4 separate regions of the Homo sapiens genome follow, and all the other regions are linked to region 1. The links come from fine-mapping of genetic effects on gene expression. A gene starts in region 1. Each other region holds a variant in brackets. All regions are shown on one strand. Distances are from middle to middle. Region 1 holds the start of PIAS1 (protein inhibitor of activated STAT 1). Region 2 has its middle 84 kb from the start of PIAS1. Region 3 has its middle 12 kb from the start of CLN6. Region 4 has its middle 70 kb from the start of PIAS1.

What was found. PIP is the estimated chance that this variant, and not a neighbour inherited with it, causes the effect.
Region 2: its variant is the best candidate, but not a certain one, in a credible set for the expression of PIAS1 in tibial artery (GTEx, PIP 0.71).
Region 3: its variant is the best candidate, but not a certain one, in a credible set for the expression of PIAS1 in whole blood (INTERVAL, PIP 0.88).
Region 4: its variant is the best candidate, but not a certain one, in a credible set for the expression of PIAS1 in uterus (GTEx, PIP 0.57).

Annotation. Positions count from the first base shown.
Region 1 is chr15:68,050,533-68,057,218 of GRCh38, reverse strand. PIAS1 (protein inhibitor of activated STAT 1) reads right to left here and starts at 2,904. Exons shown (of 14, transcript NM_016166.3): 1 at 2,869-2,904. The coding sequence starts at 2,892. RefSeq lists a silencer at 2,606-3,105.
Region 2 is chr15:67,967,850-67,972,849 of GRCh38, reverse strand. No RefSeq gene overlaps it. Among named protein-coding and RNA genes, the nearest start is that of PIAS1, 84 kb to the left of the region's middle. RefSeq lists an enhancer at 3,441-4,357. The variant C/T (reference allele first, on the strand shown) is at 2,930.
Region 3 is chr15:68,238,129-68,245,908 of GRCh38, reverse strand. It overlaps a transcript of CLN6 not described here. Among named protein-coding and RNA genes, the nearest start is that of CLN6, 12 kb to the right of the region's middle. The variant T/G (reference allele first, on the strand shown) is at 4,907.
Region 4 is chr15:67,980,125-67,988,372 of GRCh38, reverse strand. No RefSeq gene overlaps it. Among named protein-coding and RNA genes, the nearest start is that of PIAS1, 70 kb to the left of the region's middle. The variant G/T (reference allele first, on the strand shown) is at 4,594.

The DNA.
Region 1 (6,686 bases):
GATATGTATGACTCACAATCTAATTTTTATTGGCAATATCTTGAAGTGTTGCAGCTTGCACAATTCCTACAGGGGATAAAGATCTATCTGTTTTTCCCATCTGATCTTTGCACATTTCTTATAGATTTAAAAGGACTCACTAAAAAAGCCATGAGGAAAATAATTATGAATACAATCCACAGCAAAATGAAGTATGGGGCTGAAACCTAAAATAATGAAAAGTCACTGAGTTTTATGTAAAGCTTCACAGTTGAAGTACTCTATTCCCATTTAAAATTTCAAAAAATCTAGATTTTTTTCTTCTTACTCTGATTTTTCCTATCATATTAGGAATGTATGATATTTACCTCCAAAAAATCACAAACAAAAAGCCTTCAGAAAATATCATTTCCAAAAGGAGTATCTGCCAAACCTTACTGCACAGAAAATTATATATACACATTCTCTTTTTTTTAACACATTCTCAAATAACTATGGTAGGCGTTCCTGAGATCACCTCCTCCACCCCTCAAAAAAAGAACAGCAAATCTAACCACAATAAAGTATTAACCAAATTTTTTTAACGCCGCTATCACCAGCTAAGCAATTTATCACACAGCTCCTCAAAGTCTCAGACACACACAATGACATACCAACATGTCAAAACAGTTATTATAATTTGAAAAATTATACAACAGGAACATAAGAGTAGAAAAAAAAAACTTCCTCTGGAAAAACTCTAGTAGATTTGGGAGAGCACAAAAAACGAGATTAATTTTAGAAAAATAACATTTCTTCAAGTGTTTGGTGTTTATCTGATACTGGTTCATTTTCGTAAAGAGAAACTTTACCTAACAAGACTCACACCAGGGATCTGATCTATCCCCAAAGGCACTTTCTTAAAATGAGAAAGAACAAAGAAGGAAATCTCTCAGCATGTGCTTTCCATACTAGTTTCTTTGGACAGCATCAAGAGTGACAATATAGTCTGCACATGCTTTTCAGCTTTATTCTATGGTCCATGTATAACAACTGATTAGCTATCATTCAAAAGAACTCCTAACAAAATAAATATTACAAGGCAAAGATCACAGCAACATAGTGACTCTAAGAGAAAAATTATAGAAAACATGTCTTAAAGTTGTGTGCTTTTTTTTATTTCAAGGGTTAATTATCTCCAAATATTCAAATTCCTAAGGCTTTCTCATTTCAGTCAATAGTTTGAAACTGGGGAAAAATCAAAACCATCCATTGTAAATCTGCTCTCCCTTCAGTAAATTTGTAATTAGAAGTACATTTTAAAAGAATGACACTCAAAGCCAATACCTTAACATACGAATCTTGGAGTGTAAACATTGTGAAGTTATTAGGAGAAAAGCTCTTTCGGTGAGGATATTCCACAGGAAAAACTCTACAGAATCAAATCTGGCATTTGGTTGTTCTAGAAGTTGTCGTTTCATTATAACGGGGAAAAAATTAAATAATTTTTATTTATTATAAAAAGAAGACTCTCCCCAAAGATTTACAATTGTATATCCCCATCTCCTCTCTGACAGAGATGTCAGTTCTCTGGGTCGAGACATAACCAGCTGCTGGGTTCACACACACAGGAAGCCACAGAGAAGATCGCGTTCAGAGCCTCGAAATAATACGCGTTAGTTAAGAACTGCCTGCTACTAAACCAAAATTATTCAAGCGGAGCCCCATTTGTCACAATCCAGTCATAAGGGTTCCACCACCCCCTCCCCCAACTGCTTGTGTAGTGGTATATCTGCTACGGTAAAGAAGCCATCATCAGGTAAAGATTGGGGTGGGAGAAAAGCGGGGAAAAGGGGGCACCCTTTCATCTAATTTCGTGAGGCGTGAGTAATTGGTACTGTTAAGAGGAACGTTCTATTTATCGGGGGTTGGAGTAGCATGAGGGGAGAATTTCGTTCAAATCAACATGGCCAGCAAGATGTCCCTACAAACAAAAGGCAATGGGGGGATATAAACACGAACCATTCACCTCCATCAGCTACAGCATCGCCATCATGGTGTGTGCAGAGACCCCCAAAGGCTCCTCTCACCCTCCACACCAGCTAAGGCAAAAGAAGGGAGAGAGGTAGCTGCATCCCCCCCTCCCAACACTGCTTCCAAAGACACACTCTTCGAGGGGGTTTCTCCCCTCGGCTGCCCGGAATCAGAGAGAAAGAGTAACGTCCCGCTCACTACCTCTCAGCCGAACCCCAACGCCGGCCCGGGGCTCGCTAAACTTTACCAGAGCTTCTCCCCCAGATCCCCACCCTATCGCCCCGGGATCGCGCTTCCCACAAGCGGGGCACCCCAGGCGCTTCCTGACAAGCGAGCAGCCGGGGAAAGCCGAGTCCGGGGCGGGGGCTACTGGGATCCACGGAGGGGCGGGGCGGCCGAAGCCAAGTTCCCGGGGGTCTGAGAAGAGCGCCTGACAGGAGCCCGGGACTGCAAAGGAGGAAGAGGAAGCGGCCACGGGGAGCTTTCCCAATCCCCCCTACGAGAGCACCCTGCCCCCAGCCCCAGCTCCCCATGGGGGGCAGGGAGGCTAACTGGAAGGTGAAAAAGCCGAGCCCATGAGACAGCTGCAGCCCCTACCTCCGGACTCCCTATCTCTTCCCCCGCCACCCCCGCCAGAGGCGCCCACAACAATAACACGCCGGGGACGACCCGTCAGCGCCCCCGAGGCACCCGGGGCCCGCGGCCCGCCGCAGGCGGGCCCCCTCTGCTGAGACCGGGCGCGCCTCTCTCCCTACAACTCCAGGCCCGGGTGGAGTCAGGCCCGAGAGGCCCCCCAGGGTCGGACCCATCCCCCCTGGCAGCAGCGGCGCCGTCTCCGCGGCCGAATATTAGAAGTGAATTCGAGCTGCGCTTTACCTTTAGTTCCGCACTGTCCGCCATCTTGCGTCTGTCAGCGCAAGCGCAGTGAACTTCGCCGGGGGCCGCCGCTAGACCCGCCCCTCTAGCCGGCCTGGCCCCGCCCCGGCCCGCCCCTCCACCTTCCCAGCCCGCCTCTAGCCTCCGCCCCGCTCAGGGCGCTCGAAGCCCCGCCCCGGGCACGTACAGCTGCGAGACAGGCACGTTCCATTTAAATAATGGCGCCAAGCGGCGAGGTTTGACAGTTACTGCCCCCTCGGTCTCCCTGCCCCCCATCCTAGCTCGGCCAGCTCCTCCCGGGAAGGGCCGGAGCGAGAGGGATGCTGGCCTGAGCCCCATCTCTCTGCGGTCCGCGGAACGCTTCTGCATAGCTTCGACGCCTACGGTCACAGAAACAATGCTGTCCCCCAACCCCCAATAAGCAAGGCTTTTTCAGCACCTGCTACCTGCGAGGCTACCAGTGGGCTAAAAATAGAAATCCATTACATTTAAGGGGCCCTTAATGAAGCATTTCTATCATTATTGGCTCAGATCCTCTTGATAACGAGGGGAGGTAGGCAAGGAAGAGATAATTCCCATGGTATAGATTCAGAAATGAAAGCTCAGAGAGGAAAAGTGACTTGCACAAACAAGTATTTTAACGAGGTGGCGTAAGACAAAATTTTGAAGGTGTTCATTAACATTTTTGTTTAAAAAAGTATTTATTTAGTGACCATCTGCTTGCCTTGTGCTAACGGCTAAATATACATTTTGAAATCAAAGTCCGTGCCCTTCTGTAGTTCTCTAATGGGGAATCAGAGAAGTGAACGAACAAAGATACAATTGCAAATGTTAGTGAGTACCAGAAAGGAGCAAAAGGTCATTGAGAGAGAGAAAGGGTTTGGGAGATGTACTTAATTCTGGGAGGGTTTTATCCACTAAATTGACATTTAAGTAGACTTGATGGAAGGATTATTTCATTCCTTTTCGTCTCTACTGAAAGCCTTCTATATACCTCCTCCCCAACCCCCACTTTTACTAATCAACTTTGCCTCATAACTCATGGAAAAAATGAAAGATATCAGAAATAAACTCCCTTATCTTCTCACCATCAAAACCACCCTTATCTGCATAGTAACATTTGGGTTGCTATGAATGAAGTGTCCCTGCGCCTAGGAAGGCCAGTCCCTTTACCAGTGACCGGATTTTTTTCACGCACATTCCTAAGGATTTTACTCTTACAATTACCTACCCTCCAGCATCGTTAGTTTTTTCCCTCTCAATTGAATTGCTCCTATCAGCATATAAATATATTGAAATTTCTCCCATCTAAAATAAACTTCCTTTGACTCCAAAATCGCCTCTAGGAACTGCCCTATTTTTCTGCTATCTTCATAAATTCTTAGAAAGGTTTTTCAAGATCTCTCCAATAGTGCTTGTTCCTACCTCTCACTTCACATTCACTTCTCAGTCTACCCTGATCGAGCTTTGGCTTCCATCATCTGTATCACTTATCAAGATTACTAATGATCTTGTTTCCAAAGGCAATTGCCAATTCTCTATCCATATCTCAATTGACCTCTCTGTAGAATCGCGAATAATTGACATGGTTCCTTTGATTTGAAACACTTTTCCCCCTGAACTTACCTACACGTCACAGATAGTCCTGTTCCCTCACTGGGCCTCCTTTTTGATATGCTGGTTTCTCCTCTTTGGCTCAATCTTTAAATGTTGGACTGCTCCAGGGCTCGGTCCTTGCATTCTTCTCTATTTTATCACCAGGTGATCTCATCTAACTGGTTGACTTGAAGTCTATATGCTCATGACTTTGAAAATGCTCTCTAGCCTAAACCTCTCCATTGTCAAGAAACAAAAGTAAAACAAATTGAGATTCAAGATCTCATTGGCATTATTGCACTCCTAGAATTGGACAAAACTTCATTCCACAAAATAGAATAAATGTTGCAATGAATCAAGCAGAGGATGTTAACTTTAGAGACAGAAAATAGACTGAAGAAGGCAGAAACAACAAAAAGCAGATTGGTTATATCAAAGTCACTTTTCTTTAAGGTGGAGACGTGGAGACAGAACAGTAGAAAGAAAACTGATTGGTTAACATTGGGTTACTTCAGGTATTCTATTTTAAGGATTAAAACAGGAAATTTCATTATCATGCCTGTTAAAGATTGAAACTTCTGTTTGGAAAATTGGCTATCTCTCTTACCATTTTTTGGAAAACCAGATAACTCAGTTTTGTTTTGGTGAACATGGGTGACACCATTTTGATTTTTAGTCTGATCTGGAGGCCTGATGCAGGAATTTGGTTGAAAACAATGGCATCCCATGATTTTTATTTAACAACCTAGGTGAAATTGTGACTAAGACTGAGGGCATTAGCACTACCCTCATTTAACATCATTCTGTGTTTCCAGTCTCAACACATCATTTATAGATTACAGTGTCCTCATGATTTTGTATTTCTGTCATTGCAGCTGAAGAGAGACCATATGACATTCAACAATTGGCTGTATGCAAATATGTAAAACTTTTTGAGAGAACATAATTGAGAATTGTGACTATCAGGAGGACAATGCCAAGAGTTCGGAGTATGCTTCTTAGCTAGGGTTGCCATAAACCAAACCAACTAAAATCAAATAGATCAAAGAATGAGCCAGATGAGAAATCTACCTGTTTTCACCAAGTAGCCTGCTAACTTTTTGAAACTGAGTCTCTACAATACCAGATTATTTATGTACAACAAGAAGTGACAGCAACAGCACAGATTTCCCCGTTTGGTTAGTACGCAGCAATTCTATCATCTAGCATCTCAGAAATGGGTTAAATTAAAGCAAAGAGTGCTAACTCTACAAAAGAGGCCACTAGTAAAATTTGAACAAACAGTTGCATTAGGGATGTTGCTAAAGTTACCCACTAGGTGGAATAAAAGCTCTCTTGGGTCCTGTAAATGTTTGGGTTTGACCCTTTATCAACTTACCCACAAAAACTACTAATTGTGAAATTTTAACTACAGCATTATCCTGCCAAGTGGAAGAGGTGGGCATAAGCAAGAAAAAATTAAGAAGGGAAGGAGTCTTATCATGGTAGCGAGTCTTATTCTGACAGTCTTGGAAAACGCTGTCCACAACATGATGTCAGCAATTTCTCATCCTGGTTTGCAGTTTAAATGTCTCTGGCTGTGGCATCAGGTGTTCTGCTAAACTCTCTATGTGGCTCCCTCATCAAGCATGGGACTTGTCCCTTGAAATTTATATCGAGTTGTTCAGCTTAGCAGTTTTTGTTCATGGTTGGAGAATTGCAGTCAGATATTGAAGGCAACAAGAACTCAGGATCCAGGCTAGTCTATAGATAGATGATAAAAACTCAAAAACAATGAACAAAGCTGCAATCTAGTAACAGGTGTACTATGGTTTTCTTCAGAAACATAATTTTTCTCTCTACAGTCATTCCCATTTCTACCAAAGATAATCATGGTAAGACCAATTTATTTTTAAAATTAATTTAGTTTCAAACTTGACCTGATTATTTACATAAGTGCGGCAAGAATAACCACATAGGCTTCTTTTAAATTTATTTTGCTGGAAATTGTGACAACAAATCTGGACTTTTAAAAACCTCTTGATGTTAGGAAGTCAAACCAAGGCAGACATCAGACTTTGCCTGCAATATCTAATATCTTGAGGCTTCTGGGCCTGCCTGGAAGTGACTACTTTTATTCACTATAAAGCTGAGAACACTTGAAAATTGGCATTCTATGATTCCATGCACATTTTAAAATATGACATTGCTATATATATATATATTCATATATATATTCATAT
Region 2 (5,000 bases), 84 kb after region 1:
AAATCAAGAAGACAAAAAAGTATAGAGTATCTAAAGAGCAAAACAGTATTAGTTTAAGTCACACTAGCAACTGTAGCAAATAAACTTTTAACTAAGAGTAGCTGAACACTTAGACAATCGAGGTTAATTTCTTTTTCACGTAAAGTTCAATGTTTGGTTGTGGGGCACGGAGGAAGGGTCTCTGCCAGGAATTCAAGCTGATAGAAACTCTGCCACCTTCAACATGTAGTTGCCAAGGTCACTCTGTGTGTTGAGATCTTGGCATTCATAGTGACAGACAGAAAGGAGAAACACACGTAAGCTGGGCCTGGAAGTGGCACACATAATTTCTGCTCATGCTCCATTGGCCAAAACTCAGTACAAGACCACATCTAATTGCAAAAAGTCCAGGAAATGTAGCCTAGTTGTGTGCCCAGGAGGAAGGGGAACAAGTTTGTTCATCAATTAGCTAGTCTTTAACACAGCAAAGAACAGACGACCTGTCAATGTAATGGATATATGTAGAACTTTGAATAGAAAATGTACATTCTTCACAAATACAAATGGAACATTTATAAAAATTGACTAAGTATTGACTAAGTATTTAACTGCACAGTAAGTTCCAAAAAAATTTTTTAAGTGATATAGCTGGGCACAGTCCCAGCTACTTAGGAGGAGGAGGTAGGATGATTGCTTGAGCCCAGGAGTTTGAGTCCAGCCTGAGCAACATAGCAAGACCCCATCTCAAAAAATAAGTAAGTAAGTAAAGTGAAATAATATAAAACATTTAATGATAAAATTTTATGTCAACAACAACAGGAAGATGGCTAGAAATTTGTATACACCGAGAAGTTTTAAAACACAGGTCTAAATAATTAATGAGTTGACAAAAAACTACAATAAAATTAGAATTAACTGAAGTACTACTTTAAGATGACGTTAAAGTAGTCTTCAGGGAAATATATAAACTTACTTGCACTTACTATAAAGCAAGAAAGACTAATGATGAATTAACTTAGCTTTTGCATTGGTTCCCTAGGGCTGCCATAACAAATTACCACACACTGTGTGGCTTAACACAATAGACATTTATTGTCTAATAGTTTTGGAGGCTAGAACTGAAATCAAAGTGTTGGTGACACCATGTTCTCACTGAAGGAGGTGGCTTCCTAGCCTCTTACTGTCTTCTGATGATTGCCAGCAATCCTTGGCTTATAGACACATCACTCCAATCTCTGCTTCAGTCATCACATGGCATTCTCCCTGTGTGTCTGTCTCAGGGTCCAAATTTCTCTTTTCTTATAAGAACACCAGTCATATTGGATTTAGGGCCCACCTTAATCCAGTATGTTGTGTTTGGCCATTGAGGTATTGGAGTTTTCTGTTACAGCACTGAGCCTACTAACAAGGTACATCATTAGATGTATTCTCATTAATGTCAAGAGCAAGATTAGAATACCCACTATTCCCCTTCTTCATCATACCCAACTTCATGCAATAAGATTACCTCCAAAATAGACATATAAATATTAGAAGAGAAGAAGACAAAGCAAAGCATTAATTATATACAGATGAGATTTGGTTGCCTTCTCTAGAAGACCTAAAAGAACCAATGAACAAACTGTCAGAATTAATAGTACCAATGTACCAAAATTAATTGCCTTTCTACTTACAAGTATAAGCTATGAGAAAATGTAATTGGAAAAAAACAATAGTAACAAAGACTATAAAGTCTTTAGGAAAAATTTTAGTAAAAGATCTTTATGAAGGTGATTTTAAACTTGACTAAAACACATTTTAAAAGACCCAATAAATCAACATGTCAGATTCTTGGATAGAAAGACGCTATATTCGAGATACATTTCTCAAAATCTAGGTATGAATTTGATGCAATAACAATCAAATTACTCAAAAGACTTTTCACAGACCTTCATAAATGAATTCGTATGGAAGAATACATGTACAGGAAGAACCAAGGCAATGAAACAGAAAAAGTGGGTAAATTGCCCATCAGCTGTTAAGATACATTATAAATCAATAGTCAAAACAGTGTAGTATTTGCATAAAAATAGAAAAGGAGATAAATGGATAAATGGAAAAGAGTAAAGGGTCAGGAAATAGATCTGCGTTTATATGGGGATTTGGTATATGATAGAGGTGGTATTCAAAATCAGTGGAAAAAAGACTATTCAATAATTGGTATTAAAGCAATTAACGACCCATATGCAAAGCAACAAAATTAGATTCCTATCACATACATACACCAAAATAAATCCAGATGGAGTCAATGTTTTAATGTTTAAAAAAAAGATAAGTAAATAGATACTTAAAATTATTAGTGAAAAACGTAGATCAAATCTTTTTGAACAAAAAACAAAAATCTATAAAGGAAAATACATAAATTTTGCCATATTAAGTATTTAAAATTCTGCATGTCAAAAGACATTGCAAACAAGATTAAAAAATAATCAGCAGACTGAGGAAAATGCTTGTGATAGATACAGAAAAAAAGATAGTGGCCTAAATATATAAAGCAACTCTATAAACTAATTTTTTAAATAGCCAGTAAACAATATGCTTAATCATACTAATAATCAGGAAAATCATACAAAAATAAATTATTTTCACTCAGTAGATTCTAAAAAATTTAAGTTTTTTTAAAAAAGTGAAGTCTTATAATCAAGCAAAGCAGTGTTATAAGCTAACAAGGATGCTCATTATACGCAGTAGCTTTAGAGGGCAATTTGGCAGTGTGGATTAAAAGTAAATAAATGCATATTCAGCAATTCTACTTCCGTGCATCTACCACCAGAGAAACACTAGCCCCTGTGCAGAAGAACATGCAAAGGTTATTCATTGTAGAATTTATCACAGTAGCAAAAAATTGGAACCAATGTATATGCTCATCAAGAACAAAATGGGTAGATACAAAGTGGCTTATACATAAGAT[C/T]GAATAATATAGGTGTCAAATGAGCAAAAAAGAAAAAAGCAAATTGCAGAGAAAACATTATACCATTGTGTAAAACACATATACAATATAATATATATATATACATTTATTATTACACTGTACATTTCCTGTGGGTCTACATAAATGAAATAGGTATAAATAAATGAAAAATGAGTGTAAATAAGTGGGAAAAAAATTAAATGGTCTGCAAAATTAATACATCAAAGAACCCAGGGCTGTGGGTGGTGATCAGACAGATCTTTAGCTTTAATATTCTAAGTTTAATATTAATTATTAAACAATTAAATGAAATTATTAAAAATTACAACATAATTAAAAATACAATTTACGCTGCACAAGAAAAAAATTAGAGAAAAAAGACTGAAAGGAAATGTACAACAATGTATAACAATGGTTGCCTCTGGGTGATGTGTTTATGGGTGATTTTCCTTTCTGCTTTTTTTTCCTTTCATTTTCTGTACTTTACACATTTTCTGAAATGGCCATGTGTTACTTTATAATTAGCCATGAAAAATGAAAAAGAAAAATAAAGAGCGTTTAAAAAACCCACTGTCAAATTCAGTCTTTAAAGAGCAGTGTGCTTACTTCCCTTCCCCCAAAGAGGCCCTGACATTTAGAAACAATATAAAACACTCTGAAGCACCATTTAATCCTATTACTCTTCTGGACCTCTTACAAACCTGGGGATGATCCCTTTGACTCTTTAAAATAAATCTCCCAAGGTCATGGGGTTCGTCAGTAACAGAGGGGGATGAAACTCCCAGGCCAGTGCTCCTCCCCTGCGCCATCTGGCACCTCAGAATTTCAGCAAAGATTTATTGCTTGAGCTAGCCAAAAAGCCAAATGCTCAAATGCATCTTCTTTCTAAGGGAATATTACTCCACTTAGGACCACTCTACTAACTTGCCACTGCCTCCTTTCTGGGCCTCAGTTTCCTCGTCTGTAAAATAAGGGGATTGTGTTGTCTCAGCAGGTCTGGAAATTCCAGGTTCCTAAAACATCCTGTGTGCCTTTTCTCTTCCCAGCTACTTCAAAGGATCCGCTTCTTCATGCTTGCTCTATGGTGATCACTGGGAGATCGTTTCCAATCCTGGTTCTGCAGCGAATTTATGTCCTGGGTGTCCCTGGGCAATGCAGTGCCTGTCTGGGGACCTCAGTTTTCCCATCTCTACAAGGAGGGTTTGGGCCCAGACCAGAGTTTTTCCACAATCTGGGAAGGTGAAGTGGGGTGACTTAGCTCCCTATAGGTCTGTTTCGCAAACTGAGGTTCTTGGTAAGGTTTTCTTTGAAACGAGAATCTTTAGCTACAAACCTGCTTGAAAACCACTGGGCAAGGAGACTTCGCAAGCTCTTTTCCAGGACTGACATTCTGTTTCTCCATGAGCAGCAGAACACTAGGTACCAGGGTAAAATAATGAAGATGACTCCCTTGGCTTGGGGCTTCCATCCTACTCCCTCTTGGGGGCTGAGCTGTTCAGTATTAAGATCTGAAATGCTCGGATCAGCTCAGCCCCCACTTCTTCCTCTCGCTCCCCGTCACCTAGGCAACCGGGCGGGGCCTGGGCGCGCGGTTCCTCCCTCCCCTTTCTCCCCACTCCAACGCCAGGCTGCATTCCCACCCTCTGCCTCCGCCTCTGCCCACAGCTTCTCTGCGTCTGGAGTCGCGAGTTCCACCAGTCGGGCTGCGTTTTGTGAACATGGAAACCAGATTTCAAGCGGGGGGGCCCCAACGCCCGAAAATGATCCTAGTTTGCATGCTAGATTTGCCTGGCTTCTTGACGGACGTGTTGCAGCCAAAGGGTCTGACCTTGCCAGGGCAACGTATGCAGAGCTTTGGAGGCCTGAGACGGGCTTGTTGGTGCTCAGGGGGCCAGGAACAGGCAGGGTGCTCTAATACCAGAGCATCCTAGAACGCCCGGGCAAACAGCCGTGAGAGGGGGACAGCGGGTCGTCCGAGGTGGGGGCTGGAAGCACGCATCTGAGTGGTTCTCTGCTCCACGTGGGGAGTCAGGAGCAAAGGGCCCTGGGGTATAATTTCCCACGGAGTTAT
Region 3 (7,780 bases), 190 kb before region 1:
CTTGTTCTTTTTTGGTTTCCACTTGCATGGAATGTCTTTTTCCATCTCTTCACTTTCAGTCTATGTGTGTCTCTATTGGTAAGTTGGGTTTCTTATTCTTCATTGTGTTCATGTGATAATAACATATTAGTTAATATCACCCAGCATATAGTTGGGCCTTGTTTATCCATTCAGCCACTGTCTGTCTCTTAATTAGAGAATTGACTGAATTCTCCAATTAAACTTAATAATAACATTGAATAACCCATGTACATTCAGTGTATTATTGATAAGTAAGGACTTACTACTGCCATTTTGTTGCTTATTTTCTGGTTGTTGTTTTTTGTTTTGTTTTGTTTTGTTTGAGACAGGGTTTCACTGTGTCACCCAGGCTGGAGTACAGTGGTGCAATCATGGCTCACTGCAACCTCAACTTCCCTCGACTCAGGTGATCCTCCCACCTCAGCCACCCAAGTAGCTGGGACTACAGGAATGTGCTACCACACCCAACTAATTTTTATACTTTTTTTGTAGAGATGAGGTTTCAACATGTTGCCCAGGCTCATCTCAAGCTCCTGGGTTCAAGCAACCTGCCAGCCTCAGCCTCCCAAAATGCTGGGATGACAGTCATGAGCCACCACGCCTGGCCACCTTTTATTTTTATTGTATCTGTTATAGGTTTTAACATTATGGTTACCATGGTGCTTACAAAAAAACCGATAACTTATTTTAAAGAGATGATAACTTACCTTAGATCACAAAAAAGAGCAGAAATAAAGCAAAACCAAAAAAAAAAACCTCTGCACTTTAACTCCATCTCCCCACATTTTGACTATTTGTTGTCTCAATTCACATATTTTTATATTGCCTCTCTCTCTCTTTTTTTTTTTTTTTTTTGTCAGAGTCTTGCTCTGTCATCCAAGCTGGAGTGCAATGGTACAATAGCTCCTTGCAACCCAGTGATTCTCCTGCCTCAGCGTCCCAAGTAGGTGGGATTATAGGTGTGCACCATCACACCTGGCTGATTTTTATATTTTTAGTAGAGACAGCGTTTCACCATGTTGGTCAGGCTGGACTCGAACTCCTGACCTCAAGTGATCCACCCACCTTGGCCTCCGAAAGTGCTGGCATGAACCACTGTGCCTGGCCGCTATTGCCTGTCTCTTAACAGGTTGCTGTAGCTGCTACTGTTTTTGATAGATTTCTCTTCTAGGCTTTATATTAGAGTTATGAGTGAATTTTACATCTTAATTAGAGTATTGGAGTATTCTGGGGTTGTCTTTGTTCTTAATTTTACCAGTAGGTTTTATGCTTTCAAATGTTTTCTTTTGGCACATTAGTGTTTTTTTCTTTCAGATTGAAGAACTCCATTTAGCATTTCTTTTAAGACGGGTCTGGGGATGGTGAATTCTCTTAGCTTTTGTTTGTCAGAGAAAGACTATCTTTCCTTCATATTTAAAGGATGGCTTTGTTGGATATAGTATTCTTGGATGGCAGTTTTTTTTTTCTTTCAGCACTTTGAAAATGCTGTCCCATTCCTTCCTGGCTTTATGGTTTCTGTTGAAGTCTTGTTGCCAGATGAACTGGAATCCCCTTATGTGTTATTTGCTTATTTTATATTGCTGCTTTTAGGATCCTTTCTGTGTCCTTGACTTTTGAGAGTTTGATTATTATATGCCTTAGGGTAGTCTTACCTGGGCGAAAACTGCTTGGTGTTCTCTGATCTTTCTGTCCTTGGATATTTATAACTTTCTTGAGCTTTGGAAAGTTTTCTGTTATTATTATTATTATTATTTTGCATTAGTGCATCTTTAATGTTAAAGCTAGTTTTTTTTTTGTTTGTTTTTTGTTTTTTTGATCTTTTTGAGATGGAGTCTCCCTCTGTCACCCAGGCTGGAGTACAGTGGCCCTATCTCAACTCACTGCAAAGTCCGCCTCTCGGGTTCACTCCATTCTCCTGCCTCAGCCTCCCGAGTAGCTGGGACTATAGGCGCCCGCCACCAGGCCCGGCTAATTTTTTTTGTATTTTTAGTAGAGACGGGGTTTCACTGTGTTAGCTAGGATGGTCTCGATCTCCTGACCTTGTGATCCGCCCACCTCAGCCTCCCAAAGTGCTGGGATTACAGGCGTGAGCCACCATGCCCATCCTTTTTTTTGTGTTTTTTTTTTTTTTTTGAGATAGAGTCTTGCTCTATCACCCAGGATGGAGTGCAGTGGCGCAATATCGGCTCACTGCAACCTCTGCCTCCTGGGTTCAAGCGATACTCCTGCCTCAGCCTCCTGAGTAGCTGGGATTACAGGTGCATGCCACCATGCCTGGCTAATTTTTGTACTTTTAGTAGAGATGCGGTTTCACCATGTTGGCCAGGCTGGTGTCGAACTCTTGACCTCAGGTGATCCACCCACCTTGGCCTCCCAAAGCACTAGAATTACAGGCATGAGCCACCGCACCCAGCCAAAGCTAGTTTTTTAAATAAAATTTTATATCTATCCAGTCTTAATTAGTTTGACCATAAGGTAAGATTTTCATGAACTTTTTAGAACCCTTTACAATTTTCCATCAAACAGCAGATTAATTTTCTAAGAAAACTCTGTTATTCGGAAAAGTAGGCCGAGATTCTGGCCCCATATCAGTATGATTTCAGTGTTTTAACCTAAGGAAAAAAGCTAAATAATTCCTTTTAAATCTTAGCCAACTTGTTTATACTCACAGAATTTTAAAAGGGTTTTACAAACCCTTTTCACTTTGCTTAAACCTTCAGTTTTGTTCCATTACTCTTTTAGGTTAGGACAATGTTTAAAACCCTCTGAACTAGACAAAATTACATTCCCTTTAACAAAAGCCGTATTTCTGTGACTTCTTACAGTCTTTTACGAAAAGCACATTCCCCATACACCTTGTATATAAAACTGTTTCTGCAGTCGTCTCAACTACATATTACAATGTTAACGCTTAGCAACTTTTATTTTTAGTGAAAAACCTGGTAAGTAAGCAATTTCAATTATGTACTGGGGTGGAGCTTAGGACATTAGACAGAAATGAAGATAAGGTCTGACTCTTAGCATAGCTGGTGGGCATGGCTCTCCACATGTCCCCAGGCCTTACCTATCATCTAATGCTCCAAAGTAGGTAAATCAAACCATTTTCAAAAGTCAAAGAAACAGTTTGACCTTAAAGCATTTAGCAAGTCTGATATCTGACCTTAATTTAAACCAAATGTCTACACTTTCAAGACATTTTATTTTACCAATAATCTTTAAAACTGTCTTTATTTCCAAAAGGTTACTAAAGTCACGTGAACAAAAAGGCATTAGTTTCTATTTTTCTGACAAAATATTTTATTTAAGCACTTATTTTTCTTTTCCTTATTTATTTATTTATTTATTTTGAGATGGAGTCTCCTTATTATTTATTTAAGTAAGTTCTGTACCCCTTGTTCTTGCTCAACTCCCTCTTGAACACCAATAATTATTAGATTTGATCTTTTGAGGCAATTTCCCATATCTTGTCGGCAATCTTCATTCCTTTGTATTCTTTTTTTCTTTTTTCTCCTCTATGTAATTTCAAATAGCCTATCTTTGAGATTATGGATTCTTTCCTCTGCTTGATCCATTCTGCTGTTGAGAGTCTCTAATGAATTTTTTGATTTAGCAAATGTATTTCTCAGTTCCAAGATTTGATTTTTAAAAATTTCAATCTTTGTTAAATTTAATAAATTCCGAATTGATTTTCTGTATTATCTTGTAGATCACTGAGTTTCCTTAAAACTGCTATTTTGAATTCTTGGTCAGAGAGCTCACATATTGCCATCTTCTTAGGGCCATCACTGGTTCCATGCTTTGTCTGTTTGGGGTGCCCATGGTTTCCTGTTTCCTGTTATTTCTTGTGGATATACATCTACATCTTTGCATTGAAGGATTATTTATTTATTCTAGTCTTCTCTGTGTGGCCTGTTTTGCTTTTTATTGGGTATGTTTGCTTATAGAGTCTTTGTAATATACTGCTGAATTTCTTATTTGTTTGTTTATTTTCCACTAGGTCACTACCTCCTTTTTGGCACTAGATGATTTCTTAAGCCCAGGTTTGCCTCGGCTCTAATAAACAATTGGAACACTGAAGTTCCAAATGGGGGAGGTCCCAGAGCAGATATCCTGGCAGTATGGATAGGCTGGCTGGGGATTAGTGCCCAGGAGACCTGTGGAATGCAGCTGCTACAGTGTGGTGCTGCTAACAGCCACTCTGATTTGGTGTCTTCTTTGGCCGAGTTACAGAACCATGTTTCTAGGGCTAGGGATAGTATCCCCACCTCCCTCCTTGGTCTCTCAGTGTCCTCAGAGATATTTCTTCCTTCAGGCAATCATGATGCTTCCCATGGGTTGAGGCAGAGGCAAGGTCTCCTGCCAGGAAACCCACAATGGTGGAAAAGCTAGTCGTCCACCTCAATCTCACTTTTTCCAGTGCAGAAATCGTTGAGTCGGGAAATTTCCCACACACTTGGTGCTGGGCAGATTATAGGGAGGGGAGTCATGGATGTAGAAATCCATTTATCTTACTGACTGCTCAGAGCTTTTTCACTTCTCTATGACTCCAGGAACTGCCTCATCCTCATATTTGGGTTCTGGAATATTGCTGGCATAGTGCTGATCATCTCAGCACTGTGTATTTGTTTTTGGTTTTCTGTGGGAAGGAATGTAGCCAGCTTGCTTCTACACCACCAGTTTTGGACTGGAAGTCTCCAGGCTTTCTTGATGCAGCTTTGATAAGTTATATGTTTTTAGAAATGTTTCCCTTTCTAATAAATTTTGAAATTTACTAGCATAATGTTATTTATGGCATGTTTATCTTTTTCATCTCTTCCATATTTGCAGCTTTCTTCTGTTCTTCATTCATATTCTTGCTTATTTGTGAATGCTACTGTGTTTTTTT[T/G]TTTGTTTTTTTTTTTTGGGAGATGGAGGCTCCTTCTGTCGCCCAGGCTGGAGTGCAGTGGTGCGATCTCGGCTCACTGCAACCTCCACCTCCAGGGTTCAAGCGATTCTCCTGTCTCAGCCTCCTGAGTAGCTGGGATTACAGGCACCCACCGCCACGCCCAGCTAATTTTTGTATTTTTAGTAGAGACAGGGTTTCACCACGTTGGCCAGGGTGGTCTCGAACTCCCAACCTCAAGTGATCCGCCTCTCTCGGCCTCCCAAAGTGCTGGGATTACAGCCGTGAGCCACCGCACCCGGCCCTGTCCCCTTTTTTTTTTAAAGGAATCTTGCCCAACATTTATCTATTTTATCTGGCCCTCCCCTGGCTTGTTATTTTATTTTATGTATATATTTATTTATTTAGACAGAGTCTCGCTCTGTTGCCCACGCTGCAGTGCAGTGGCACGATCTCAGCTCAGGGCAACCTCTGCTTCCTGGGTTCAAGCAATCCTTCTGCCTCAGCTTCCCAAATAGCTGGGATTACAAGCATGTGCCACCATGCCCAGATAATTTTTTTTGTATTTTTAGTAGAGACAGAGTTTCACCATGTTGGCCAGGCTGGTCTCAAACTCCTGACCTCAAGTGATCCACCTGCCTTAGCCTCCCAAAGTGCTGAGATTACAGGCGTGAGCCACTGCGCCTGGCCTGGCCTTGGCTTGTTGATCATCTCTATTGCATGTTTGTTTTCTGCTTCATTAATTTTTCCTTTATATTTATTATCTCTTTCCTTATGCTTTCTTTGGGTTTATTCTATTGGGAGTTTTTTTCTTCTTACAGTGAAGCCTAGCTTATTAATTTTCAGTCTTTTTTCTTTTCTAATGAAAGCAGCTAAAGCTATAAATTTCCCTGAATTACTATTTTTCCTGCATCCATAAGTCCTGATAAGTGTAATTTTTATCATTGATTCTGTTCAACTTTTTATTTCTTTTATGATTCCTTACTTGACTTACAAGTTATTTAGAAGTATACTTCCTAATTTCCAAAACCTAGTGGATGTGTCACTTCTTTTTCTTTTATGCACTTCTAATTTGGTTGCTTAAGTTAAATCTATGATTGTGGATTATAAAATGTGGTTTATGTAAATCAGATTCTTGAAATTTGTTGAGGCTGGTTTTATGGCCTTTTATATGGTCAATTTTTAAAAATATTCCAAGTGTCCTTGAAAAGAATGCCTGTTCCTTGATTGTTGAATGCAAGGTAATTTATTCACTAAATTCACTAAATTAAGCTAGTGAATTGTGTTATTCAAATCTTTCTTGACTCATCAATAATTGGGAGCATTGTATTGAAATACCCCACTATGTCTGTGGATTAGTCAATTTCATTTCATAATTCTATAAATTTTTATTTTATATATTTGGATGCTATTTTAGTAGGTACCCACAACTTTAGAACTATTACATCTTCCTGATAAATAAAACCTTTTATCATTGTATAAAGTCCTTATTTATCTCTTATAGTCTATTTTGTCAAATGACAATATAGTTACACCAACTTTCTTTTAACTTCAGGTTGGCACAAAAGTAATAGCAAAAACCACAGTTTCTTTTTCACCAACCTAACAGTATTGCCTGTTATATCTTTTTTCATCATTTTACTTTCATCTTTTCTGTGTCCTTTTATTTTAGGTATGTCTATTTTTTTTTTAATTTAGGTCTAAGAATGTGTCTTTTAGTTTATTGTTTAGTCCATTTATACTTATTGTGATTACTGATATATTTAGATTTTTACCATACCCTTTTTTGGCTTTCCATTTGTTTTCCTTTTTTAAACTTATTTTTTTCCTTTTTCTTCTGCATTGGGTTTTTGTTTTCTTATTCTATTTTACTTTTTACTGGTATGGAAGTTACACATTTTCTGTTTTTAGTGATTACCCTTGAAATTTTACCATGCACATTTAACAACATCTAAAGTGAACAAATACTTGAACCTTCTCTAAGAAGAATACAAAGAACTTAGAATAGTCTAACTCTCCCCACCAACCTCGGGCCTTCTTCCCCCATCTATAAATATTATTGTCCAGTATTTGTTTCTGTCCTTTTTTAACCCCACAAATTATACACCATCATCACCTTTCATTATAAGTTTTTGCAGACAATTTTTGGAATTATTTACATACTTAATAATTGATTTGCTCATCATTCTTTCTTGCATTGCAATGATAAGTTATATATTTTTAGAAATGTTTCCCTTCTTCTGCGATCATTTTCCTTCCTCCTAAAGTATATCTTCCAGAAATTGTTTTAGTTAAGGCCTGTTAGTGGTAAAATCTCTCGGTTTTATTCTGAAATGTTCCTATTTCACCTTCATGTTTCTATTTTACATGCATTTTTGAAAGACAGTTTTGCTGGCACACAATTCTGGGTTAACTTTCTCTTAACACTTTGAAGATATTTTTCTGTCTTCTAAATTCACTGTTGCTGCCACCATATAGTTTTTGTTTCTTTGTAAACAAGGTTTCTTTTCTCTCTGGCTACTTTTAAGATCTTTGCTTTTGGAGCTTTGTGGTTTCTCTACACCATGTCCAGATGTGGGTTTCTTTCTTTTTCTTTTTTTTTTTGAGACAGAGTCTCACTCTGTCGCCAGCTGGAGTGCAGTGGCGCGATCTGGACTCACTGCAACCTCTGACTCCCTGATTCAAGTGACTCTCCTGCCTCAGCCTCCCGAGTAGCTGGGATTACAGGCACGTGCCACCACACCCAGCTAATTTTTGTATTTTTAGTGGAGATAGGGTTTCACCATGTTGCCCAGGATGGTCTCAATCTCCTGACCTCGTGATCTGCTTGCCTTGGCCTCCCAAAGTGCTGGGATTACAGGCGTGACCCACTTCTTT
Region 4 (8,248 bases), 70 kb after region 1:
CAAATGCGAAACACAAGGCTTCTGGGGACTCTGGAATCAGAGCCATGAGAAGAAACGAATGGTCTTCATGGCAGATATCACTGAGCTATGACAGTCTAATGCATTCACTCCCCTTTGGGGGAAGGCTTGAAGGGGATTTATAGTGAGCCTACCTTCTCCCCTGGATAGTGTTGGAGACACATGGCCAAATTCTTGCTCTCCGAGCCTTCTCACCCCAGCTGTCCAAACTCCGAGAGTTCTTACAACTCCCAGATTGGGTACAATGCAATTAATTTTCAATCAGAGTTCCTTAACTGAAATTATATTCCAGTTCTGCTTCCCAAGAATAATATCCAAAGCACTGTGAGTGGAATCCTGGGTCTGCTCAACCTTTGGTTACCTGACTAGAGTTGCTTCAGAGTAGCTGATGGCATCCATCATGTGCGGCTTTTTCTAGTTGGGCTCTCAGAACATCCTGGCTGGCCACCCCCTGCTCCCTGGCAACACACACACACACCCTACTCAGATCTATTCTCTGCTCTTCTCTGCCCTGCTCCATGCCACAAAGCCTGACCTCTGTGGATGCACCTCCTGGCCTCCCTTGACAGCTCATTTCTGGTTGGGTATGGCCAGAGGGGACATTAGCAGGAGACTGGGGACAGGAAGAGAGTGAGATCAAATCTTTTTCTCCCTCTCCGTCTCCCTGATGTCATGCCTGTCTTTGGCAGTATTTGCCACCCCCCATACCTACAGCTCCTCTTGGGTGGTTCCTTTCTTCCTGGTGCAGCTCATACTGGGCTCCAGTAACACTATTTACTCTCCTTGTTCCTTCAGATATAAGGGTAATAACAGCTTCCCTCCCCCCATCCCTCAGATGCTAGTCTCTGAGTGCCCTAACATCCACTGTTGGTGCCCTATTATCGGCTCATGTGTAAGTATCTTTTTCTTTCAAGTGTCTTCATTTGATCCATCTAGGGTGCATTCTGCTTCTTGCCATGACCTGACTGTCATAGAGGGTATCCTTAATCTCCAAGTCTTTTTAGGCACCCATAATAGCTCACCTTATCTTCACAAGAAAGGCTTTATGTTTCTCATGTGACAACATGTGTTAGGGTAAGAACAAAAGCAATTGACATTGACAGCTTTAGAAACCTTGGGTGAGTACAGTATGAAGTGTTTCAAGAAATGTCTTAGCAGGGCAACAGCACATAAAAAAGGAGGCAATTATGACCATCGGTGACCTTCTCAATCACAAACCAGGAAGGGTGAGTCTGTCCTGCCTTTAATCCCATCATATTTTACTTTATGAGAAAATAGAAATATCAGGCTTAGAAATTAAATTGCTTATCAAATTTTAACCTTCAATCATAGACATTAAAGTTATTAATTATTAAAATTTAAATCATGCATTAAAACTTAAATCATGCATTAAAAATTAAATCATGCATTTAAACATTTTACACAAATTAAATTTTACAAAAAGAACATTGGTTGAAATCAACAGAGGTGAATTTCTCTGGGCTTCCCCTTCCTTTTTTGTTTGGCAAAACAATTTTTATTATCCTTCTTACTAAAGGGTCTAAGATTCCATGGTCCCATTGAGAGTCACTCTGCCCATCAATGTATCAAAGAAACAGCCTTTCTTCAATTTATTTGAGCAACTAATGCTGTTGCATAGCTATCATGGAACCTACTACAGGGGGGAACTTCATCCCACACCTTGGGGGTTCACATCCCCAAAGCCCCCTCTAGCACCCCAAAGATGTCATCTTTCTTTTCCCCCTCAGCACTCAGAATTTAAACCACACAATATGGCATCTGACTATACCTATTTTGTTCTCTAATTTCTTCATGGGTGTCACTTCTCATATTTTCAATGAAATTATAAATTATTCTGGGATAGGCATACTGTCAAATGTCATGGTGTGCCTTTCACCATCCAGGACAAGGGCAGTTTCATTGATATTACATATCTATTCAGCAAACATTTATTGAATACCTACTATGTGCCAGACACAATGCTAGGCACTGGACATATAAAGATGATTCAGATAAAATCCAGATCTTCACAGAACTCAGAATCTGGAGAGGACAAGAGTTATTTATTTTGTTTTATTCTTAGTTCATGTCTTTTATTAACTCATACACAATTACTTGTCTTCTGGTTTGTTGAAGCAATAAGTCAGACAACATTTCCCACAATAATGTCTGTCAAAGTGACTGGCCTTAAAAATGTCACCACCACATTTATCTGAAGGGGACTCCCTACAAAGACAGCTAATTTTGCCATTCTCATCCACCTTATGGTATTTCAGGACAGCCAGCTTAACCTTCTTTCTCTTTGGTCTCCATGGGAGTTGCATAAGACTTCATTTTCTTTTCTTTTTTTTTTTTTTTTTTTTGAGAGGGAGTCTCGCTCTGTCGCCCAGGCTGGAGTGCAGTGGCCCATGATGTCAGCTCACTGCAAGCTCCACCTCCCGGGTTCATGCCATTCTCCTGCCTCAGCCTCCCGAATAGCTGGGACTACAGGCACCCACCACCACACTCAGCTAATCTGTTGTATTTTTAGTAGAGACGGGGTTTCACCGTGTTAGCCAGGATGATCTCGATCTCCTGACCTCGTGATCCGCCCGCCTCGGCCTCCCAAAGTGCTGGGATTACAGGCGTGAGCCACCGTGCCCGGCCAACAAGACTTCATTTTCTTAACACCATTGTGAAATCTCAACACAAGATGGAGAGTGCACTCTTTGCAAATGTGGTAGACAGACAAAGCATGTTAATCTCTGATATGGTTTGGCTGTGACCCCACCCAAATCTCATCTTGAACTGTAGTCTCGATAATCCCCACGTGTCATAGTAGGGACCCAGTGGGAGGTAACTGAATCATGGGGGTGGTTAACTTCATGCCGTTCTCATGATAGTGAACTCTCACGAGATCTGATGGTTTTTTAAGGGGCTTTTCCCACCCTTTGCTCTGTACTCCTTGCTGCGCCATTTGAAGAAGGACGTGTTTGCTTCCCCTTCTGCCATGATTGTAAGTTTCTTGGGGCCTCCCTAGCCCTGTGGAACTGTGAGTCAGTTAAACCTCTTTCATTTATAAATTACCCAGTCTCAGGTATGTCCTTACAGCAGCATGAGAACGGATGAATACAATCTCCCAGGTGCTTGCCAACAAAGATCAGCAAAGGCTGATCAGGAGGAATTCCTTCCTTCTCCTGATCTTGACCTTTGCATGTTTCATCATATCTGAGGGTTCAACCTCAAGAGTGGATGGTCTTCTCTGTAAAACTTTTTATGAAAATATGCATTTCGGTGATTGTTCCATGGCAGATGGCAACTCAAAAAGCAGCACAATGGTTTTGAGATAGGGTCTCGCTCTGTCACCCAGGCTGGAGTGCAGTGGTGTGATCACAGATCACTACAGCCCCTACCTCCCAGGCTCAAGTGATACTCCCACCTCAGCCTCCAGAGCAGCTGGGACCACAGGCATGTACCACCACACCTGGTTTATTTTTAAATGTTTTGTAAAGATGGGGATGATCTTGCTACGTTGCCCAGGCTAGCCTCGAACTCCTAGGCTCAAACAGTCCTCCCACCTTGGCCTTCCAAAATGCTGGGATTACAAGGCCTAAGCTACCTCCCCCAGCTAACAATACTTTTAAAATATAAAACTACAGTGCATACTGAGAAGTGCTCAAATGATGTTATGATCATGAATACAAGGGAGAGCAAAGAAAGAATGAAATTTGATTGAGATGTTGAAGAATGAGAAGGCTTTTCCAAGAAGGGCAGTGATGACGGGCACTCCAGTGATGGGGAATTGTAGGCAAAAAGGACTGTGTGTCTGCAGAATAGCAAGCAGTTGAGTATTTGGACAAAGGGGCTTGGAGGGGTAGAGAGGGCATGATAATGGGAGAGGAGGTGCTGCAGAGGCCTTTTGTGAACTCCTGGCACTGAAGTCCTAAGATGTGGGCCTGCATCCAAGTTTGCCTTTTCCCTATATGCCCTTGAGCACATCAACCTTTGGAAGCTACCATGTCCTTATCTCTAAAACAGGGACAATAATGCCTATTTCTTACTGCTGTCACTAGGATTGAAAAAGATAATTAACGGAAAAGCACCACGTTAATATCTTGCCATCCCACTTGCTGTCTAGGGGATATTAGGCAAGATGCTAAATCATTCTGAGCCTCAGTTTCTTCGTGGGACAATAATAATGATACCTACATAAAATTCTTTTAGCATATCATGGCAAGCTTTGCCCCTCAGTATAATTATAATGCATTCTTCTTTCTGATGAGAAGCATTATGGAAGAAATCGCATTTTTCTTTCTCCCTCCCTGGCTGCCAGGACTTTCAGAAGCAGGCTTGATGCCCAGTCCCAGAAAACATGGTACCTCTTCTGTAAGTATGTCTGCAACCTCCTCTTCCTGAACTGCATTTTTTTTTTTTTTTTTTTTTTTTTTTTTGAGATGGAGCCTCGCTCTGTTGCCCAGGCTGGAATTGGAGTGCAGTGGTGCGATCTTGGCTCACTGCAAGCTCCACCTCCCAGGTTTACGCCATTCTCCCACCTCAGACTCCCAAGTAGCTGGGACCACAGGCACCTGCCACCAC[G/T]CCTGGCTAATTTTGTTTTTGTATTTTTAGTAGAGGCGGGGTTTCACCATGGTAGCCAGGATGGTCTCGATCTCCTGACCTTGTGATCCGCCCACCTCGGCCTCCCAAAGTGCTGGGATTACAGGTGTGAGCCACTGTGCCCAGCCACATTCTTTATTTTATTATTCTTACTTCAAGTTTATCCTTCATTGCAAAGTTTTGATTCTTGATTCTTTTCTTCAAGCAACCTGCTTCTTTTCCATGCAAATATATAATCTTAGGAGATAGGAGTCCTAATTCTTGCAAAGTGTTCTTGTAAATTAAAGCAGTGTATTAGTCCATTCTCGTGCTGCTATAAAGGGATACCTGAAATTGGGTAATTCATAAAGAAAAGAGGTTTAATTGACTCATGGTTCCACAGGCTGTACAGAAAGCATGGCTTGGGAGGCCTCAGGAAACTTACAATGATAAGGGAAGGTGAAGGAGAAGCAGGCACATCTTACATGGCTGGAGCAGGAGAAAGAAAAAGACGGTAGAGATGCTACACACTTTTAAACAACCAGATCTTGGCCGGGCATGATGACTCATGCCTCTAATTGCAGCACTTTGGGATCACTTGAGGCCAGGAGTTCGAGACCAACCTGGCCAACATGGCAAGACCCCATCTCTTCTGAAAACACAAAAATTAGCTGGGTGTGGTGGCGCACGCCTGTAATCCAGCTACTTGGGAAGCTGAGGCATGAGAATCACTTGAACCCGGGAGGTGGATGTTGCAGTGAGCCAAGATCGTGCCACTGCACTCCAGCCTGGGCGACAGAGTGAGACCCTGTGTCAAATAAACAAACAAACAACAACAACAAAAAACAGATCTTATAACTCACTATCACAAGAACAGCACCAAATGGGAAACCCACCCCCATGGTCCAGTCACACCTCCTACCAGGCCCCACCTCCAACACTGGGGATTATAATTTGGCGTGAGATTTAGGTAGGGACACAGACTCAAACCATATCAAGCACCTTTATTTAATCAAGCTCTTCTTGCTAGAAATGATTTCCAATCCTCACATTTAGACAGGAGAGAGAGAGAGAGGGAACTGGGGAAATAAAAATAAAGATAAATACCCTTACAGGTATCAAGACTCAAAATTATATTAGTGCAGCATTAAATACCACTTGGGCCTTTTAACTTATTCATTATTTAATTTTTAATCATAAAATTATATGCATATCCTCCTTAAAAAATTGAATGTTGATAAAACTAAAGTTTTTTTGGAGCCCCTAACCTCAGTTTCCTCCCCACCTCCCCAAAGGAGACCATTATTATTAGTTAGGTGTGGAAACTTCTCTGTCCTTTCTTATGCATTTACATTTTTTTCCATAGAAAATGAACTCATCTTTACATTTTGACAGTTAATCTTCTGGGCTGTGCCTGAGGGTTGCCTTTCATTCATGATAACTTTTTAAGACAGGCCACATGTATATAAGTGTATGTAAATAAAATAACTTATGAAATCTAAAAGGGGAAAGGTTTCACATGAAATATATCTTTATGGAAGCTCCATAGCCTTCTAGAAAACAGAGAGCACATGTCAGCCCTGGTATCTCCCAGCTACTTTCTCTTTTCTGAATACTGAGCCTTCAGGGGCTGCCAGGGCAGTTGACACACACTCTGTGCTAGAAGGGTGAATGTGTAAGAAGGAAAGACCCTTGCATTGGAGGTCACCCCCAAGTCCCATTCTACAGATGGGTAGACCAAAGCCTAGAGGGGAGGCAATGAACTTCCAAGGTCACACAGCTGGGTAGAGGCCGAGCTGGGGTAGAAACCCGGCACCTTCCTGATTCCCAGTCCTGTGCCCATTCTACACTCACATGCCCAGTTCCTGCTTTCATTTTGGGAACTTGCCCATGGACCAACCTCTGTGCAGTCACCGAGGGGTGCTCATTTAACATTTACCCATTTGGTACACACAAGGCACACATTGCAGATAATGTGGGAAAACTGTGAAATTGAAGGACACTGTATAGATGTGTTCATTCTCTCCTTTATCAGAAGATTTACAGTTTGCCTTTTCTATGCTAGGAGCTGAGGTATGTAACATGGGGATACAGAGCTGCATCAGATCAGGTCCTGCCCTCTAGGAGTTTAGAACTAATTGAGGACACAAGACAAGTACAGCAACAGCCACAATGCCAAGTTTAAAGTGCCAAGCCCATTGGAGAGGTGGAGCGTGCAGAAAGAGACAGCCTTGCATCTAAGAGTGGGGGATCAGAGAAGGCTTCCTGGAGGAGGTGGCATCTGAGCAGCCCTTGAAGGATGATTAGGTTAGATGAGAGGTAATAAGATAAGGGAATTCCAGGCACAGCAAGGGGCTGAGCAAGAAAAGCAAGGAGGGTTTCAGAGAAAAGGTGGAGCTCAGGTTGGTAGGTAAGGTGAGAATGCTTGTAAAGGTGCTGAAGCCAAGCTTAGCCCCCTTGCATTGCAATCCTGAGGCATGTGTCTTCTTGCCTTCACTACAGTATATGCCCCAGAGGAAAGACAGCTGGCTTTATAGCTGTAAATCTTCTTGATGCCTGGAAACGTCATGCATATATTATATTATCGTGGACTATTTATAATTCCATTATAATTATAATATATATGAGAATGTACACATTAGATGTATATCTATATACAATATATTATATATGCATATAATATAAGGAAGAGAGATGGGAGGAAGAAAAGAGGGGAGTAGGTAAACAAGCAGGCAAAGAAATTACCTCCTTCTGTCACCCACTCTTTATCCTTCCCTGGGGACATTGTGTTTTCTCATTCTAGGAGTCTAAATAAATTGTCGATTTAATCTTGTGCTGTAATATGGATATGTCACAAGTGATTTGACTGCATGTTCTAGTATGATAATCACCATGTATTACTTCTTAGAAGTTACAAACAGCTTTGCTGTTCCCAACCCTGAGAGGAATATGTGACTGTCACAAATCCCCTCAGGAACCAGGAGCAGACACTTACAAAATCCACTACCTTAAGAGAAAAAAAATCACCCCCTCTAGGGATAAAGGAAATGCCAATTAAAACCACATGAAATATAATTTCCCTTTTCCTCCTCAAATTAGCAAAACTTTTAAATGAAATGAATGAGAATATGCACGAACATGATTGAGTTATTCCAATTCACATTAATCAAGTATGTATTAAGGATTTTTTTTTTTTTTTTTTTTTTGAGACAAATCTCACTCTGTCACCCAGGCTTGAATGCAGTGGTGTGATGACAGCTCACTGCAGCCTCAACCTCCTGGGCTCAACCAGTCCGACTACCTCAGCCTCCTGAGTAGCTGGGACCACAGGCATACACCACCAAACCTGGCTAGTTTTTGTATTTTTTGTGGAGGTGAGGTGTCATCATGTTGCCCAGGCCTGTCTCGGATTCCTGGGCTTAAGCAATCCTCCCTCCTAGGCCTCCCAATGTGTTAGGATTACAGGTGTGAGCCACCACACCTGGCCCAAGAATCTTAAAATGTTCATACCCCTAGGCAGTAGTTAACATTTCTATGGATTTATTCAAAGGAAGAAAATCTGAAATGTAGACAAAGTATTAAATATGAGTGTTCATTTCAGGATTACTTGTCATAGAGACAAATGAGAAATAATAGAAATGGCAAAATGAAGGTCATA